Linked DNA regions of Homo sapiens: region 2 is linked to region 1. The links come from fine-mapping of genetic effects on gene expression. A gene starts in region 1. The other region holds a variant in brackets. All regions are shown on one strand. Distances are between the middles of the regions. Region 1 holds the start of ZXDC (ZXD family zinc finger C). Region 2 overlaps ZXDC (ZXD family zinc finger C).

Region 1 (10,236 bases):
TTATATTAAATCCTCAGAGCCCAGCTGTGCAAGTACAGAAAAACCACTGAATCTCTCCGAGTCTCACTGTAAAACAGGGAGAATAAGAACATTAGCTTTGAGGTTGTTGGGAAGGTAGAAGACACACATGTAAAGTGCTGAGTGTCACCTGGACACAGTCTCCAGGGTTGTCATTACCACCATGAAAACTTGTAATTACATGAAGAAAGCTTATTCTACAATGTTAAGTTAAAAAAAAAACCTGGAATTGTTTTTTTTTTAAGAACAGAGTATGCCAATTTAGCTTTTTTTAAAAAAAGTATACACAGAAAAAACTGACTTCAGGTGATGAGATTCTGAGCAATTTTCTTTTTACAGTTTTCTGAATTTTCCAAATCATCAACACTGAGCTCCTTTTTTAACAACTTAAAAAATGTCTACAGATATTTCATTCATTGGTTTCTGCTGCTGACAAACCACTCATTTTCAAACCTGATAATGCAAACCAAAATGTAAGGATTACCTTCTGTGCCTTAGAAGTTTGGACATGCTGGTGAAGGTCCAGCCACAGCTGTCAGAGTCACAAATAAATGGTCTTTCACCTTATAAAAGAAAAAATTATACAGCATAAAATTTACAACTCCAACAGCTACGATGAAGACAAATCTTGGGTCCAAATGCTGTGCGTTCCCTAGCTCATTACCTGTATGGCTCCGCAGGTGAATTTTCAGCCGACAGGCTTTATCATACTGCTTGCTGCACCCAGGAAAGGAGCAGGAAAAGAGCTCTTGTTCCCTGAAGTGGGCTCGGTTATGGGAAAACAGGGCACTCACTGTGATAAATGTCTTCTCACAGCCTGAACAAGGAAAACACAAACCCTGCTCAAAGCGTGGCAAAAATTATACAACATAGCTAATGCTAGTCACACCCACCAGACCCTGTTCACACTGAAGCAGACAAGGGAAAACATGACTCAGAAGCACTCTCTAAAAAGGGAAGACCATTAATGCTTGGCTTTGTGATCACCACAGGAAGGCAGCTAATGGCAGCCAATAGGCACACGCTGGCCACCTGTTGCAACATGACTTGGAGATGGAGCAACCGATAAAGAGAAAGTCCTCCGTTCACAGCCATCTACTGGCCGGCTCCGGAGCACTGATCCTGCACACACACTGAGACCCAAGAACCCCATGAGAGAAATCAAATACTAAGGAACAAGATTTTGTCTGGTAGGGTTGATCTTTGAAAGGCTACAAATCATCCTACTAGCCAGGATTTTTCACCCCTTGGGGGTGATGCTGCATCCTCTACATATCCAAATTTCCTCCCTGACACCCTCCAACTGCCAGCCCTGTCCCTTGCTGTTTGGATTCTTTTTCCTTTCGCAATTTCCTTAGGTTCCCTGCTTTGTAATCTTCACCTCAATCCTAACCCCTGGCCAAAGCAGCTAAGCCTCAACAATTCCACAGCAATACTTCTCCTCCGACAGAAACATTCAGGGCTCCAACAGGGTGGAAAACATGAGGCTGCAGGATGTTTAACAGGAGTCTTTGCTGCAGCTCCTCTTGGAGCCTTTAACGAGATACTATCATGCCTATGAACTGCCACACAGATGTACATGGCATAGCACTGCCCAAAAGTATCAGCCCAAGGAACCCTACTTTCCCCAGCAACATCTAACTCAGAAATGCTGATCTTTGGCCTCAATCTGGTCCCAAAATACCTCCAGGGTATTTTGGGCTTCGGTGTGTTCACACACTTGGTCATGTAAATCTGAACACAGACTCTCTCTGCCTTGGCAAGAACCCCCCACACCCCCATAGATAATTACACCCTTTGGTTCTCCCTCTGCAATCTCACCTGCTAGAGACCCTCATCATTCCCACTCCCTGGCTCAGGCCTTCAGAAAACTCAGGTCTGGGCCCTTTGATGATGCTTCCCTGGTCCTGCTCCTGCTTCTAAACATCTAATCTCATCTAACCATCTAATCTCATCTCAACACAAGAAGCCTCATGGATCAGCCAACACAAAACCCTCAAGAGACCTCATGCCTGGAAGCAGGCGGGATCCCTGACCTTCCCAGTGTCATACACAGAATGATACTCTTTTAGCAGGGAAAGGGTCTACAGCCACCATCAGATTCCCAAGAGTGTATGACTGAAAAAGACTTTGAGCTAGTGGCCTCAAGCCACATTCTCTCTGAAGAGGAATGCGCAAGACAGTCCACAGGCATATGCGAGGGAAAAAATAATAAAACCCGTTCATAATTCTCATCTCATCCTTTAAAAATTCTTGTTTAAGGACATTATAAGGAGAGCCGTGTGCATATACAGGTTAGGGGCATGCTAGGCACACATTCCAGTTTCTGTTTGAATGACTGGTCCTTCCTCCTGGGCCCTCACCACAGACCACAATCCCCACCTGGGCTCTGCCACCCAGCCGACTCCATTCTTCTGCCTTTCCAGGGAGGAATCCTTTCTTGCCCTTCTGGAGGAACCCTATCCCTGTGAAAGCAGGGAAAGCTGCCCATCCTGGTGAAGAGCTCACTGTGTTGGAGTCCTACATTCCCAACAACTGCAGGTCAACACACAGGAGAAAGAACAGGCAGTGGACTTTTTTTTTTTTTTTTTTTTGAGACGGTGTCTCGCTCTGTCGCCCCGGCTGGAATGCAGTGGCGCGATCTCGGCTCACTGCAAGCTCCGTCTCTGGGGTTCACACCATTCTCCTGCCTCAGCCTCCCGAGTAGCTGGGACTACAGGCGCCCGCTACCACGCCCGGCTAATTTTTTGTAGTTTTAATAGAGACGGGGTTTCACCGTGTTAGCCAGGATGGTCTCGATCTCCTGACCTCGTAATCCGCCCGCCTCGGCCTCCCAAAGTGCTGGGATTACAGGCGTGAGCCACCGCGCCCAGCCACCAGCAGTGGACTTTATCCACAAGGCTCGGCCTCTGTCTCTTCATCTGTAAAAGAGGACAGTTTTTAACCTTCACAGACGGCTAATTTTTAAAACTTCACAAAACTGTGAGGTTCAACGGAAATCAAAGTGCAAAAGGCAAAAAAAGCCAGGATGTGCGCACACCTGTGGCTATCCTCCCAGCGTGTTAAGGTCCTGAATCTGGCCACATTCATCTCTGCTCCTCTAGCACGGAGTGTGCACCCCGTAAACAAATGACGAGACTGAGGAAAATAAAGACCTGACACATAGCTCCGTGCCACTCTGTGAAGATGCGTGCCGCTTTCATCAAGCACAAGCAGGTTAAGGATATCTGTTGCCGCCACCTTTGGGAAGCGCAGCTGTGGTGATCTGCGCTACCTGCCATCGGAATCCCTGCGGCAGGGCAGGGCCAAGATCTCAAATCGAATGACATGGAAGGAGCTAGAATACAAATCCCGAAGAGCCTGCGTCCCCGGCTTGCTAAGGTCTGGCAGGCCCCTCTGTGGGGCGGACGTGGCACCCCAGACCTGCCTGCAACACCGCGCAGCCCGCCCGCCCCCGAGAGCGCGGTTACCGGGAAAGTCACACTTGTAAGGGCGCTCGGGCTCGAAGTGGCTGCGCTGGTGGGAGCTGAGCTTGGCGTGCGTGGGGAAGCGCTCGGCGCACACCTCGCACTTGAACAGGCTCTCCTGCTCGTGGCCCTTCATGTGCGCCTTGAGGTTATAGACCGTAGTGAACTTCTTGCCACAGCCGCCCACTGGACAGCCGAAGGGCCGCAGCTTGTCGTGCGACTGCAGGTGCCGCTTGAGCTTGTAGGACGTTGTGAAGGCCCAACCACAGCCCTCCAGTGGGCACTTGAAGGGCCGCCGGCCCTGACCGCCGCCGTGCGTGAGCAGGTGCACCTTGAGCTGGTGCTTCTTGGCGAAGGCCAGCGCGCACTGCGGCTCGGGGCAGCGGTAGCCGGGCGTGCTGGGGCCGGAGGCCTGGGGCGCGCGGCGGGGAGCGGCGGCGCCCGCGGTTGCGGGGCCGGGCGGCGCAGACAGCGCGAGGACGCCGCGGTCGAGACGCACCAGCAGGTCCTGGCTGCTGATGGTGACGGCGCCCGCCGGGGCTACGCCAGGGCCGGGGGGGGCGGCCGGGCCGCTGGGGCCCTGCTCGGGGCGGCTCGCCAGGTTGACACGGGAGCCAGGCTCGGCCTCCTGTGATCCGGCAGCCTCGGCGGCAGCGCCGCCGTGCGGCACTTCCAGCAGCACCAAGAAAGAGTCGCCGTCGCTGTCGTCCTCGGCGGGCGGCGGGCTTGGCCCGGAGGCCTCCCCGGGCCGCGCCCCGGGCCCGCCATCTTCAGGGCCCCGCACCAGTAGCAGGCGGCGGCGCGCGGGGCTCGCGCCGAGCGGCGCTGGGGCTCGGCGGAGCGGGCCGGGGCCGCCGCCATGTTGCCCTCCGCGCGCAGTCGGGGCGGGGAGCAGCGCCGGGAGGTCCATCTTGGTCCCAGCGACGGCGTCGGAGCAGCTTCGGACGCAGAGCTGCCCGCGCCCCGCCCAGGTGTGCGTGCGCCGCCCCGGGACGCGATCCGCGCCAAGCCCCGGCGTAGAGTCCGGCTCGGAACCGCGCGTGCGCGGACGCCGCCGGGCGATGCGCGAGGCCTGCTGGGCTGACGTGACGTGAGGCTGGGCTGCGGGGCGCCGGAGGCGGAGGCGGGGGCGGGGCGCCGGGACCGACTAGGGCGGGGCGCGGGGTCGGGGGGCGGGGCGCGGGGTCGGGGGGCGGGGCGCGGGGTCGGGGGGCGGGGCGCGGGGTCGGGGGGCGGGGCGCGGGGTCGGGGGGCGGGGCGCGGGGTCGGGGGGCGGAGCGCCGGCACCTACGAGGGCGAGCGGCGGGGCACGGGACCGACAGGGGACGGGGTGAGGCTCCCAACGCTGAGCGATTCCTTCTCGTTCCCGCTGGCGTGGAAGACGAGGCTTGTCTTGACTTCGAATCGTATTAATATTTCAGACACTTAACAGGCAACCTCTCGTAGGCATTGACTGCGTCCCAGGGGCTGTACCTGTCCGAGCTGATTAAGCGTGCGCGGTCACCCAGGGGTGAGGAAACAGGGACGGCGAGCTCGAGTCACTCGGCAGCCGGCAGATCCAGGATTCGAACCTGTCCAACAGGCCGGACGCCTACCCCCAGCTCACTTAAGTGCAAGCTCGCCTGCCGCCGCTGGCGCACAGACCTCGTTTGCTTTGGCCCAGGTCCTTGCTCGGCACACGGGGCCTCCCTGATACGCAGGACCCCTGCCTGTATTTCCAACTGTATTTCCTACTAAACTTGGCACAACCTCACTCTGCAACAGCTTAATTACTTACTGTTTCCGGTCCTCACCCTCCCCCACCTCACCGTACACCTCCGCATTCAATCTGGACTCCTCCACTTCAACTTCACCACCACTCAGATCCAAACCCGCACTTTATTCCTGGGTACCTGAAAAATAACTACTAGCTGGTCATCGGTCTCCCTCCGCTCCACTCGCTCCCATCCACGGGGCACCGTTTTATGATCTAAAAATTGCACATCAAATTATGCTCACCTCCACCTTGCTCCCGAAGGCGCCTATGGCCTTGCTAGTCTACCCTCCCCTACCTGTTTGCCCTCACTTCCCGCCACTCTCCCGCTGCCCCCCCCACCCCTCCCCCGCACCCCACCTCTTTTTCCCAGTTCATCCAGCAAGCCAAGCTGGTTCCAGCCTCAGAGACTTGGCGCAGCTGATCTCTGATTCCTCTGGGAGGACTCTGCGCCCCTTCTGATCCAAAGCACATGCTTACCCAGTCCCGTATTCCCACCTCTGTCTGATCTGTTTGCTCTTAGAGCTCTCATCACCCGTTGTTTTGTTGAGTTCCTTCCCTGCTCCTTCACTGTCTCTCCCTCTCTGGAATGTAGGCTCCTGGAGCCCAGGAACTGTGTCCTATTCACTGTGTGTGCCCAGGAAGACTCTTGGTGCATATTTGTTAAATACATGAATGCTTTATTATTAAGAGTATTTTTTTAAGTAACACAAATTATAATATTAAAAAGAATAGGATACATCTATTATATATATCAGTTTATGCCGAAAACATATTGTTCCTAGACCATTCAGTAGAGGAAAGAATAGTCATTTCAATAATGGCGGCACTGGGACAACTGGATCTCCACATGCAAAAGAACCAATTTGGACGTGTATCTCTCATCAGAGGCAAAAATTAACTCAAATTAGAGCAAAAGCCTACACGTAAGACATAAAACTATTTGAAGAAAAGTAGGTGTAAATCTATGTGACCCTGGATTAGGGAATAGTTTCTTAGATATAATATTGAAAGCACAAGAAAGAAAAATAGATAACTTGGACTTCATCAAAATTAAAAACTTACTCAGGTAAAAGGACACCAATAAGACAGTGAAAAGACAACTCAGAATGGGAGAAGGGTGTGCAAATCGAATATCTGATAAGGATCTACTATCTGGAATATATAAAGAACTCTTAGCAAGAAGACAAACAGTCCACTTTTTTAAAAGGCAAAGGTTTGAATAGACATATTTCTCCAAAGAAGATAATACAAACAGCCAATAAGCAAATAAAAAGAGGCTCAACATCACGAATCATTAGGGAAATGCAAATCAAAACACAGTGAGATACAACTTCACACCTACTCAAATAGTGGTAATTTTTTTAAAAACAGGATATAGAAAAATTGGAACTCTCACATATGGCTGGTGGGAATGTATAACGTTGCGGTGTGGAAAACAGTTTGGCAGTTCTGCAGAAAGCTAAACATAATCTCCACATGACCCAGCAAGTCCATCCCTGTGTTGCTGAGGCTGGAGTGTGGTGGCTATTCACAGGTGCAATCATAGTGCGACCTCCAACTGGCCTCAAGCAGTCCTTCCGGGTCAGCCTCCCAATTAACTGGACTACAGGCATATGCCACCATGCCCAACTTGTTGCGCAGCATTGATTATGCCACATTCTCGTGATCAAAGAAGTCATAAGACACTGCAGACCCAGGCAAGGGGAACTTGTACTCCACCTCTCAATGGGAGGTGCTGGAAAGAATTTGCAGCCATTTTTAAACTATCACAACTTCTCTGTGCCTCAGTTTCCTCATGTGTAAAATGAAGGGGACTGAGAAAGAAAAAGGGCAGCCCCTGCCATCCAGAAACTGGCCGGGTGCTACAGCTGGGCCACTCTGTTCTGTAAGACTTGAACCATCACGCAGAAAACCAACCTAGGCCAAGGTCACTGAAACACAATGACATGAGACAAAGCAAGGCCACTTCATGATGTGTCTCCACCCAGATAAAGCGAGGTCACTTGCTGTGCCATTTACAAGATACCCAGCAGCCCCTCTCTCAGCTAACGTGAGCAGCCGCCGCTTTTGTACCCCTGACAGCCTGTCTGTCTGTGTGCTTCCCTCTCTGTATATAGGATTTAGTCAGAAACCTAGTCATGGTGTTGACCCGATTTCTGGTAAGAGCCAATCCAGAGCAAATCCCCGCTTCCTAAGACTCCCCCACCCAACCAAAGCTCAAATCTGATACTAGGTTGTTTCAGATACTAGGTTGTTTCAGCCTTCTGCTGAGATACCCTGAAAGGAGCAACAGGACTCCTGGCGAGGGTCAGACGCGCCACTTCACCAGGTGGGCTTGAGTCAGCTCAATGTGGTCATCCAGTGGGGCTCAGGCAGAGACTTGAACTTGGTAGTCTCAAAGGAGTGCCCCAAATTACAAGGACCACAGAGATTGTGCCTTGGCCAGCCAGACCTGTACTCTCCAGGCTGTGTGGAAAGGATTTTGGAGAAGCCAGGGGAAGGGACGCAGATGACACACGCATGCACGCTCAGATTTATTTGTGTCTGGGGAGAAATCCCATCAGCCCAGGTATCGCTGGATGTCCAGCACCTCTTTTGGGCTAAAAGGCATCATGTGGATCTTGAGATTGCTAACAGAGAAGTGTCCAGGATTCCCAAATTTTGATGGGAGTGGGGATGAGGTTCACTGGGAGCAAAAGAGCATCTCTTTGTCAAAGGTCACAAGTTCAAATCCCAGCAGAGGTCATACAAGTCACACAAATGTGGGAGACAGGTGGGCACAGGAAACATAGACTCTCATGCCAAGGGACAAACAGCATACACGCTCCGCCTCACCATGGGTTCTGTAGGGACTGGAAGGGACTGTGGCCAAGTGCAGAGAGCTAGGCCAGCCCAGAGGGGCCCCCAGCAAATCACTGCCACAGAGGTGGTGAGAACATGGTGTTACCTTATATCTTGATTTTCAAAAAATAAGCTCTGGATTTCTCCCAATTTGTAAACATTGGTGACAAAGTCAAATTTTTTTAAAAACAGGACAGACCAAACAAAACACAACTGCAGGCTGAGTGTAGTGCTGTGCTCCTGTGGTCCCAGCTACTTGGGAGGCTAAGGCAGGAGGATCACTTCAGCCCAGGAGTTCAAGGCTACAGTGAGCCATGATTGCACCACTGCACTCCAGCCTGAGTGACAGAGCAAGATCCTATTTCTAAAAAATATATAAATAAAACATAACTGCAGGTCATGCCCGGCCCACAGGCCCCTGTGTGGTTGTCTACTCTGGGAAAACTGGAATGGGAGAGTGCATCACTCAGCCAGGCCCTCCCTCCCTGACCTTGGCTTGCCAGCAAGGAAAGCATACAGTTCCCAGGGACCCTGGGTTTGCAGAGAGCAGGCGCTGCCCAGGGGGAGGACCCTAATGCTGTACTGCAGGGCCTGAGCCTTTCTCACCTCCAACTCTTAAGGCAACTGAACCCTACACTCATCATGGCCAACTGGTTTCTCTTTTAATCATTTTGATGAAAACATTTCTAACTGGACTATACATCCTTGCCTTCTGAAAAAGAAGATGGCACTGGGCACATCAGAAGCCACGCTGTTCCTTCCATGGCGACTACAGCTGTGACCAGCTGCCCCAATTCCGCTGTGAGCCCCGTGGGAGTCAGCTGTCACTTACCACTGCAGCAGCAGACAGCAGGTTGGCATGCAGGGGCCAGGGAAGTAGCTTGCTCCCTGGCATGGCTTGGTATGGAGCCCAGAGGGGGTCTGGGGTCTGTGTGCAGCTGGAAGCCACCAGAGCCCTCCCTGTCCTTCAAGAGGGAAGGTGCTGGATGGGGAAAGGGTGATGCCAGGGCCCTGTGGCCCGCTCTTAAGATGTGTGCACAGATCCATGCAGCAGGGTGCTTTCATGGAGATGTGGGGACAGACGATTCGTCCCTACACACTCTGTCCTGTCTCTCTCACTATCTCTGTCTTTCTCTCTTTCTCTGTCTCTTACTCTCTCTATCTCTCTCTTTCTCTGTCTCTTCCTCTCTGTATCTCTTTCTTTCTCTGTCTCTTCCTCTCTCTCTGTCTCTCTCTGTGACTCTCTGTCTGTCTCTGCCCCTCTCTGTAACACTCTCCCCTCTCTGTCTCTGTCCTTCTGTCTCTGCCCCTCTCTGTAACACTCTCCCCTCTCTGTCTCTGTCTTTCTGTCTCTGCCCCTCTCTGTAACACTCTCCCCTCTCTGTCTCTGCCATGGAAGGATGCAGTGAGAAGTTGGCCTCACCAGGAATTACGCCAGCTGGCACCTGGTCTTGGGCTTCCAGCCTGCAAATGTGTTTCATTTCTGTTGTTTGGGCCCCAGTGCCAGACATTATGTGGCAGCCGCCCTAGCTGACCAACCTGGTTGCTGTGTTTCCAGGCCCCACATCTTGGTTCTGGCAGGACGAAGGGGCGAAGGCAAAAAGCAACCCCGCTGGATCTGTCCATTTTATTAGAAAAACGACGGCTCTCAAGAAGCCCTGCCCCACAGACCCCACCCTCATCTCGTGGGCCAGGACTAGGCCAACAGTCCCTCCTAACAGCAAGGAAGGCTGGAGAATCAGGTGGTTTTATTTACCCTATATTGCTGCCCACACAAAACTAGGCTTTTGTTCACAAGGGAAAGGGGAGAATGGCTGCTGGGGAGGAGATGCGGAGTGCAGGGAGGGTGGGGACCAAGAACCCGGCTTGGTCCTGGAGAGGGCAGTGGCCTGCCCCTCTCCAATCCACCGACATGTGGGGTGTCTGGTTTTCTGTGGCCCTCAGAGGCCCACCCACAGACTCTTTCTCATTTCTCTGTTTAGGATGAGTTATCTGTTGGTCTGTTGCACGCCCAGCTAAGAGAATGAGATTCATGAGCCCTGGCCCTGACAGAGGCCACTTCCCCCATCCCGGTGACCTCTCACGAGGCTCTGGACCCAGTCATTACCGGGCTATGGGATTGGGGAAGGGGTGCCAGACTCCAGCCTCAGGGGC
Region 2 (10,236 bases), 35 kb before region 1:
AGGATGCAGCCACCATTGCCAAATCTCAGCACCCCGCCGGTTCATCATTTAACCCTAAGCAGATGCTTGAGGGCAAGAGCATGACACCTTGGTTCCCATCTAAAACAGCTGCTCTGCGAGACAAAAGCTAATTCCACGCTGAGTGTAGTGTGAGATCAGCCTCTGTGCAAAGACCAAAGAAATACAAGCAGGCAGCTAGGTATATGGCAGGGCCAGCACTACCAACTAAAGGAGAAACAATGGGCTGAATGCCATATATGTAGCTACTTGAATTAAGCCAAGGTGAAAAACCTTCGGTGCATGACTATAAGAAAACTTTCATTCATTTGCACTAGGAGTTAGGCCCATCACCGGCAGGGAACCTTGGTGCCCAGAACACTGGGTGCCAGTCCCAGTCACTTCACGGTGACGTTCCCAGGGAGGCACATGGGAGAAAAATAGAGGCCGAGAGGGCATTCCTGGGGGAAGACTCTCCTCCCCATGGAGATGGGGTGGGTGCGGCTCCACCCGCCATGGTGGCCAAAAGCCTCCCATGGAGGGAGGAGGACTCCGGGCCACCTTGGGGCTAAAGAGCCTGCCAGGTGGGCAAGTTCTCCCCTCGCCTTTAGTTGGTGACAGAGCGCCGGTCTGTGGAGAAGACCCATTTGTCGACGAGGTGTGGATTCTTCCACGTGGAACAGCACCTGGGGACAGCACCTCAGAGTGAGACAAGACAGAGGGAGGACTCACTCAAACTTGATGTCACCCCCAAATTCAAGAAACAAACACAGGGCAGAGTTTGAATGATTCAGTCTGAGAATCAAAACAGCCTCTGAATGAACACATACTTCAAAAGGCACAAGGCAAAAAAAAAAAAAAAAGTCATTTAGGAGTGACCCTGTGTCATTGCTAAGTTGACAGACTTACAAATAAACATGGGCAAGGTGATCACCTTGTCTCCTTTTACAAGACAGACCTCACTCGGTAAAAATATACACTGACGTATTATGTGCACATCAACCTCAATAATAAAACATACACGCGCCATCACAGTCCTACACATAATTTATGGTATTCAGAACATCACTTTATAAACTGTTGCCAAATTACCACTTAAACACTAATATCCAAATACAGAATTTAGAAAATTATTTTAAATTTTAACTCTACCATCCCCCCGAGCTCTCGGCTATGAATTTAGTCTGGGAAGAGGGCTCCGTAATAGGCCACTGAGGTCCTCTGTCCCACCACATCATCCTCCCCCGAAAACTAGCTGCCCGACTGCTCTACCAGACTTGGGCTAGAATTTGGCTTCACGGTGGCAATGGGACCACCTGGGCCCTACAGTGTGGCAAAATCAACTTGCCCACAAACCCCATCCCAGGTGCTGGGATGCTAACACACTGAAGCTGAAAGACCACACTTGGTTTTGCCACAGATCAAGCTGCATCTGACTAGACAGCCTGTTCTCTACCCTATTTCCTGCAGAAGTCTTTTTCTTTGTAATGCAACAAGTGCTACACAGCTCAGATCCAACGGGACACGGGGAAAGAGGCTGTAGTGCACCTAGCCCTGCTGAGGGAGACCCTTGCCTTGCCAAAGCACTTTGCTCACAAAGGCAGTTTCAAAGAGTATAGCCCGAACTCATTCCTGGTAAAACAAAAGGAAAACATTTTTGATAAATGTACCCAAAAGTCTCAAAAGGGCTACGCTGGTCTTCTGAACGGAAACCAAATGAGGTCTCCCCAGGCTCATGTCATGAGTCTCAGGGAAGGTGTGTCCTAGACCGTGGCCTTGGGCCTGCCCAGGCCGAGGCTGCCGTCACTGCAGATCCTGCAGGTTGATAGTGCTTCCTGGGAACTGGGTGGCCTCCGGTCCAGCAGGGCCTCCAGATGAGGGGAGCACCTCCTGCAAAACCAAGCATTGTCATGAAGAGGGAGGAGGGAGGGGAGGCAGAGGGATCCTGTGGCTCCACACAGCAGGACACTGACCAGGCCCGTGGTGAGATACCTGACTTCTCTTACTCAAAACTACAGGCTCCCCTTATTCTAAACACATGTTCTTTGATGAAAAATGAACTCAATACTGTACTGTAAATTTTTCAAGATTGTTCTGTCTGCACATTGACGTATACCCTCACATGTTCATATACCCATATGCCTTTTTACAGAAACAAAATCATCTTTACTTCTGCAACCCTTTCTCCGCACTTCTCACGCGGTGAGCACTCTCCCAGGTATTAGGTGTCCGTCCGCCTGTGCCCTCACAGCTGACCAGGATGTGGCCCAGGGCTATGGAGGCCCCATCTAGCCTGTCTCCTCCTGCTACAAGAAGTGTTCCTGCTGTTGCACCATTTGACTCCGGGCTACGGTGATTATGTCACTACCTTATTTTTTCAGGAGCAGTCCCAGGAGGGGGCTGCCAGGCAGGATGGAGCAGACACTTCTGAAGTTCTCTGATCCATGCTGCCAAACCGCCCTCCAGCTCACCCCTCTGCAGCCTGGGTGCCCGGCCCTCTGCTCCCACCAGTGCTTCTGTCCAAGTTTGGTTTTGATTGCGAGGGAAATGCTGAATAGCCCAATTTGAATGCAAAAAAACTAAAACACAATTTGCATGGCTTATTGTAAATATATAAACACGTAAGGCAAACTGTTAGAAATGTGATAAGCTATACGCTTTCGCTATTTCATATCAAACTCTGAATCATTCACTGCCACCCATCCTTAGCTTAACCACGTAAGCAAACTACTGAATTCATCCGAGTCTATTCTCCCACAGGCTGGGCCCTGGCCAGCCCTCTTCCCAGAGAATTAACTGGAATTCCTAGGCACAACACTTTCAAGAGCATATTAACTTCTCCTGCTTTGTCTACCAGCAGGAGCTGCAGCGTCCTGCAGATCTGAGCTCCACTCACCCACCTTCTCCAGAAGGCAGCAAGACATCCTGGCAACCAACCCACTGAGCCTCCCAAGCCACGCGGCCTCAGTGACCAGCCTGCAGCTGTGAAGCCAGGCTTCTGGAAGTCGAAGGCTCTGCGAGTCTCAATAAGAAAAACAAAGGGCAGTAAGGCATCCAGACCTGGAGGACGTAGACGGGCAGGTCCACAGTGAGGAAGGGGAGGAAGGTGGCTGGGCCGCGGGCCGAGGGCAGGACACCTTCGCCGGAGGGGTCATCCTGGGAAGGCAACACAGAAAGGCCTGTCACATGTCTGTGAGAGTGCAGCAAAGGTCCTCGTCTCACCTGAGAAGTCTCCTCCAGCTGCAATGCGTGGCAGAACCAGCCCACCCCCTGTATTCCAAGGGAGGCCCGAGGACCCAGCAGGAATTGTTTATGGGGGCTGGGTACTACCTGTTCCCACCTGGTTCTCATTCTGTCACCTTGATCCCAGCAGCTTTTGCTGGGCCTGGAACCTTCTGCTCTCCAGCTCCTCCCCTCAGTCAGCCCAAATACTGATTTCCCTCCTAAGGCACGCTCCTCAACTCCTTGCAGGTGCCCTGGCACGCCCTGTACCCCCACCAACCTTGTGTACCCAGAGTGCTCTCCAGCAAATCCTCGGGCCCCACAGAGGGCCTTCCCTGCATGCCCCAGCTTGCCTACGGGCCAGCTGGAAGGACCAGGGCAGGTAGAGGGGCTCCTGAGAGGGGAGGCTGCCAGGCCCCTCACAGTCCAGGCTAGAAACTTCATCTGTCCCACACTTCGCCTGTCCTGCACCTGCATGTCCGCCCATGGCCATTCACACCCCGAAGCGGAGCTCCTGGTGCTGCTGCTCTGCACCTCTCATTCCTTCTGTTTGAGAAGCTCCTGTGTGTCAAGGTCTGCACTACTGTTCCCATTTCATAGATGACAAAACTGAGGCCCGGAGTGCTTAAGTAACCAAGACTACGCTAGCTGGTAAGGGACAGAAAAAGAACTCAAACCCAGGTTTAATCAGGCATCTCTTAAAAGTATACCCCCTACTTGCTCCTGTTCTGCCGGTGGCACCAGCTTCCCTACCGTCTCCCTATTGCCAAGCCTCTGGTCCTGACTCTGTACCTCTGCCCTGCCAGCTGAGGCAGTGTTTCCTTGGATGGTCCTCCCCCTCCCCCTGCCCCTGCTCCTGGGGAGTTCTTACCTCTTCAGAAGCTGGAAACAAAGGACCAGTGCTCCTGCCCCTCTCTAAGACAAGCTTCAGCCCCCATCTGACGCTCACCGCTAGCTTCCAACCAGCACAGGGCCACCCCCAGCTGCCCGCAGCCTCTTCCCTGCCCCCTTCCCAGCCCACCTCTGCCCAGGCTGCCCCTCCTCTTGCCTCTCTGAGCCCCAGGCCTGGTCCTGTTTCCTTGGCGAGACTCTCCCAGGACTCTGAACCCACAAACGTGCCTGTTTCCCAACTCAGAGCCAGCGTCACCTCCACCCTCCGCACTTCCGTGGGGCCTGCAACCGCATCCCCTGCCACAGGGAATCTACAAAGTGGAGTGGTGAAGAGGGGCACACACCTGGGCCAAACCCAGACAGCCCCGGCTTGTATATCTCTTCTCTCCCCAAATCCTTCCAAATCATCTTCCCTCCCCATTCCAGCCCCTCAAACTGAGACTGAAGATGCAGGTGTGCTCAGGGCTGCTGAAGCAGGTGTGCTCAAAGACCTCCTGGAAACTGGCCACAGCTGCAGGTATCTGTGGCCCGGACAGGCTGGGAGGGGCCTGGGCCTGCCCTGGAGGGGCTCTGTTTCGTAGGAAAGAAAATAGAAAAACACTGAAAAGACCCCCACCACCTTCAGCATAGAAAGGCTGCTAGTGCGCCACAAGCAGGCCGCCCTAGAAATGGGGTGGCTGAGACGGCCTGCGGAGCCCTTTTGCCCCAGCCCTGCAGAAGAAGGGCAGGGTGGCCTCAAACAGATCTCATCCTGCTGCAAAACAGCCCTGGGGGCCTCGGGCAGGGAGGCGGGCTACTCTGGGGCTAGACGCAGGGCTGTGCACAGACAGGTTCAGGAAGTGGATGCACGGTCCCAGCAACACTCAGAGCTTGAGCAGATGCAGGACAGGCTGGGAAAAAGGGAGGAGCTGGGCTGTGAGGAGACAGGACTTGGGGCAGTCTACAGGGGAGGATGCACGAGGGGCAGGCAGGCAGGGGGTGCTGCGATGGGCAGGGGATGCAGCATGCCGCACACTGCTCAGACCTGCGTGACCCTCCCACCCCGCCTACAGCTGGCCTGTGTGACTGGCCAG[C/T]TCTCACCTGCACCAGCTGGACCTGGACGCCCTGCGCCCCGCACTGCACCCCAGCTGCTGGAGCTGGTCCTGGCCGTCCTCCGCTGGGCACCACGAGGCTCCCACACAACCAACTGTTCTGGCTTGCATGGAAATGGGGAGGACTCATTTTGCCTTCTTTTATTTTTCTCTGAGTAGACTGTGAGGCTCCTAAAATGAAATATAAAAACGAGCACACCCAATCTACAATCTACCAGTCAGGTCTGCCCTTACCAAGGTCTCACTATGGGGAAGACAGCCTTCCCATTAATTGTCATTCTGCACAGCTAAGAGACGTAAAATCACTTAACAGAAAAAATCAAGAGTTAAGAGGTTGAAACAAACAACCATACGAACAAAAAAACATCAGGATTTTGATTTTAAAAATGTAAAAACATCATACGTATTTTTTTGCCAGACGGTACGGTAATCAGACACAAGCTGCAAATTCTTGGAGAGCAGAATCCTCTAACTCCAGCAGCTGCTGGCTGGCAGGAATCCCAAGCGCAACTGAGGACAGCCAACAGCCCAGAGCCACAGCATCATGGAATAGGAAGGAAGCGGGCGGTCTCCATACCCCACCTGTGGGTGGACTGCTGCCTCTGTCCAGCTCCTTTCCAAGTCACTACTCCATGGGTTTTACAAATATGTGCTTCTTAAGAAATGAAGTAAAGCACAAAGAAAAAAGAAAAAATCTTAACACCCATAACAAACCCAAGAGCTGCTTCAAAAGGGCCCAAAGGTAGCCTAGAGCGTGCACTGCAGAGACCCCGGCTAGGCTCACCCTGACCCGCCACCCACTCTGCTCCAGGGATCTGGAAAAGGAACTCAAGCTCTGGGCCTCAGCATTATCTACCTGTAAAATGGGAATGCTAGTCCCAACCTCGGAAGGTTTTGGAGAGGATTTCATAGGAAATATGTGATCAAAACTTAGAACAGTGACTGGCGAGTGCCAAGGAGTTTAGGCACTGTCACTGCTCTGCCCACACATCCCTGCCTGGATGTGTGGGATCCAGCTATGAACGGCTTCAAAAAAACAACTGTACAATGACTATCATATAAGTTATTCCTAATAAAAGTATTCAATTGGGTGACCCTGCTGCCCAAGGCAGGCTGTTTTTACGAGGCTGTTTGACAGGAAGGTTCTGAGCAGCCCATGGGGTGAGAGCTGACTTGCCCTGCATATGCTGTCTCCCTGACCTGCTCACCTCACTCCAGATCCCTTCCTGTCTTCCGCAGTGCCCTGGGTCCCGGAGAGCTTCACACTCAGCAGGCAAGCCAACTGGGTGCACAAACCTTGGGTCCTCTGTACTTAGGCACAGCCTGCTGTCTTTTCTGGGTGCCTCAGGGCTCTTTTTCTTTGAAGTGCAAATGCTAACCAGGAGGTTTCTGGGTAACACAGATTCAGTTCCCCCTCACTGCAGGGAGATGCACTTCCATTACAAAATACTTCCTTTCTGTTCATCCATCAGTGTTCCAGAAAACCCAGCAACCCTCGCTCTGGATCATCTCTGACTGTTCTCCACGCCTGGTTTCTCTTTTTCTAATTGCTCTACTTGCTTCAGACAGAAGAGCAGGGCTGGGTCTGGGGCAAGAGAGGTGCCTGGGGCACAAAACTTACTCACCCCTCCTTGAGGAAACTTCACATCAGTTCCTAGTACTGCAGTCTATTAAGTCTGCAATAACATTATGTCTAAAACAATGCATACCTTAATTTAAAAATACTTTATTGCTAACAAATACCGACATAGACATGAAGTGAGAACATGCTGTTGGAAAAATGGTGCCAACAGACTTGCTGGATACAGGTTTGCCACAAACCTTCAATTTGTAAAAAGCAAAAAAAAAGTCAACTGCAAAAAATGAAGCGTGCCTATATCCTCCGTGAGCTTGTATACTATCCCACTTACCTCCAGAATTTTACCTGAATGCATTTCTATGCTTTCAAGTCTTTTATCACCCTAGCATATAAAAATATGTACATAAACTTAACTTTTATTTAACTTCTAGGCATTAACATTTTTGGTTTGAACTGTTACAACTGCAATTATTAGTAATGCAAAACAAATCAAAACAAAATATATCAGAAACTTTGATAGATAATTATGATATTAAAAGCAAAATTATATTAAAAATGCTTTTCAAGAGGAGTGGGACTGACTGGTGGTTTTCTTCCCCAGTTAGTTCATGTATTTGTGTCTAAATATTACTTCTTGCTAGAATTAGACATGGTCAGCATCTATTCTTGTCAATTAAAAACTTTTTTAAAATAAGATGCTCATGTGTCATCACAACTTTGCAGCTGCAGGTTGAGTTTATTCAAGTGAGGGGGAACTGCCTGCCCACGAAGCCCCAGCAGCAGGGCCGGTGCTGCAGCCAGAACAGTCGCATTACGCTTGCTTTCTAATAAAAGGCCTGGCTTCATTTTTAAATTCAAATAAAAATACTGAAACATGTTATTATATTAGAAATATTGGCCGGGCGCAGTGGCTCACGCCTGTAATCCCAGCGCTTTGGGAGGCCAAGGCGGGCAGATTACAAGGTCAGGAGATCGAGACCATCCTGGCTAACACGGTGAAACCTCGTCTCTACTAAAAATACAAAAAATTAGCCAGTGGTGGTGGCGGGTGCCTGTAGTCCCAGCTACTCGGGAGGCTGAGGCAGGAGAATGGCATGAACCCAGGAGGCAGAGCTTGCAGTGAGCCGAGATCATGCCACTGCACTCCAGCCTGGGTGACAGAGCGAGACTCCCTCTCAAAAAAAAAAAATAATAATAATATGAAAACCACTGTAGAATAAATTAAGGCAGGCAGTGAATAGTGTATCTCTCCAGATTTCTTTTAAAAGCAGGCAAGATTTTAAATGATGTATATCAAGTATTTATTATCAAGTTTTATAACATAAACAAGATAAAACTGAGCCATTCATCATGATTCAATGCCAAATGTGTACGCCACGCTCTAAGTTACCTACAAAGCAAGAAATATGACTGAATCCTAATATTCCTTTGCAAAATGTGTGCTAGAATGTATGTGCCATTCGAATCATGGGAAAATCAGAATTGGGTGCAAAATCAGAAATAATTCCACTAATGTTGCTAGACATGGTTACACTTTCCTTTTATACCTAAACCAGTAACTAAAATGATTCTATCTTTATTAACAATTTACTTGTATTACTTTTACAACAGGAAAAAAGATAGGCTGTAACGAGAATATCTCATGACAAGCTAAATTGGTTTCAACTTCTGTATCAGCATACAATATGAAAAAAAATCACAGGAATTTCTTTTCAATCCGCACATTTAATTCAGTGTCTCAGGTAGTCCTGTAGACACCAGTTACACTGAGAAGAAACACCACCACTAATTTGCATCAGAAGGTATTTTTCTTCCCAGCTAACAACTCGTCTAGGGATAAAAAGTCAATAGCTGAAAAGAATTGCTCACGCTTATACATACATAGGGCTCATTCCTGAAAAGTAATACATTCTTTGACAACAGCAGAGGGCTGGCAAAGGTGAGGACTTTCTACGAGAGATGTCCATCCATGCCCCACATCCCCTCTCTGATGTACCTCAAGCAGAACATCTCAGCGTCCACCCCTAGACACATCTCTGCACAGGAAGGGTAAGCTGGCAAGCCCGGCTCATTAAAGTTTTAATGTCGGTATTATTCTACAGGATGCTTCCCTGAAACCAGTATTTGGAACTGCCCCTGGGTTTGGTGCTCTGGAAGGATATCCTGTTTTTGTGTGCACTCCAAGGCAACACACTGCAGTAGAAGTCTGGTGGAGAGTTGCAGCCTCCCCGTTTTTTGGCAAGCAGAAGGACAGCTGTGGGTGAGGGGGAGAACCTGCCACAGATGAGCTCGGACACCCCTTCTCAGAGAGTCCGTTCCAGCAAGGACTGCACCTGGAAGATGAACCTGGAAAGGATGCAGGGGTCCAGGCCAACAGCTGTGAGAGAACAGGGCAGCCAGGGGAGGAGGGGCCAAGCCCCAGTTGCTGAGTTGTCCCCCAGGCCTGAGCAGGGTGTTCTGTCCTAGAATCCCTGACGGTACACCCTGAAGTCTGGTGGTATGTCGTGAACATTTAAGATGGCTGAAAGTTAATCATAAACTTCCTGGGTTAACTAAGCAAGTATGTTTATCTAGGGATGCTTAAGGACATGCCAAAGCAAACAAATGGGGTCCACACCACGTCCTCACGATAACCATGAAGCCCTGGGTCCTCACTAGTAAAGGGCGCCATGGCATCAAATGCAATATGATCAATTTAATTAATAAAGCAGTCACAAGAAAAATCAAATTCCTCTCTCACAATGGACAACCACAAACCCTTATAGAACAAGGTAACAACACCGAACTACATTTTGCTTCAATATTTTCAATCATTATCCAAAATGCTTGCTTGTGCTGGAGAATCTGCAGGAGTGGGGAGAGGAGCAGTATAAATCCAACACCAAGCAACCTCCTGGGAAGCAAGGAAGGACTCCTTAAGGAAGAGTCCTATCTAGGTATGATGGTAAATAGCAAAGTGGTCAAGGGCCCCGGCTTGGGAGCTGGACGATCCAGCTATGTGACTCAGCTCCCATCATCTGCGGTGAATGGAGATGGCCACACTGCTTTCACCTCACCGTGCCATGACGAGAATTAGGTGAGGTCAACAGCACTGGGCCTGGCTCAAACAGCATGCCATCCCCACACCAGTAGCACCGCAGTGCCTGCCACAGGACAGAGTTCAGAGCCAGCCAGGTGCCCCGAGAAAGGATCTGCACAGATGAGGCTCAGGCCCCTCCCTTGATAACCACAGGGGGTCATGCGAGCTTCCTCTACTGAGATCCTCACTTGAACAGGAGGTAAGTGACTATTTTCCCAATTCTCCCAAGGGTGGAAGATCAGAGGTCACTGGGGCTTAACTCACTAGGTCCCTGACATGGTTAGTTCAACACAGCTCTTATAAAGATATAATATGTTAATATACTTATCCACAAGGAAAAATATTCATATTAAGAACAAAAAGCAGATAAAAATGTT

The links. PIP is the estimated chance that this variant, and not a neighbour inherited with it, causes the effect.
Region 2: its variant is fine-mapped to the expression of ZXDC in whole blood (INTERVAL, PIP above 0.99). The same link has a PIP of 0.9 or more in nucleus accumbens, subcutaneous fat, sun-exposed skin, thyroid and tibial nerve.

The regions. Positions count from the first base shown.
Region 1 is chr3:126,471,471-126,481,706 of GRCh38, forward strand. It overlaps ZXDC (ZXD family zinc finger C), which reads right to left and starts at 4,421. Exons shown (of 10, transcript NM_025112.5): 1 at 3,489-4,421; 2 at 683-835; 3 at 503-581. The coding sequence starts at 4,395. It overlaps UROC1 (urocanate hydratase 1), which reads right to left. Exons shown (of 20, transcript NM_144639.3): 20 at 9,696-10,236. RefSeq lists an enhancer at 2,768-3,293 and silencers at 3,851-4,110, 4,181-4,690.
Region 2 is chr3:126,436,575-126,446,810 of GRCh38, forward strand. It overlaps ZXDC (ZXD family zinc finger C), which reads right to left. Exons shown (of 10, transcript NM_025112.5): 8 at 5,191-5,372; 9 at 3,058-3,153; 10 at 1,027-1,887. The coding sequence ends at 1,801. Among named protein-coding and RNA genes, the nearest start is that of ZXDC, 34 kb to the right of the region's middle. RefSeq lists an enhancer at 4,669-5,304. The variant C/T (reference allele first, on the strand shown) is at 5,184.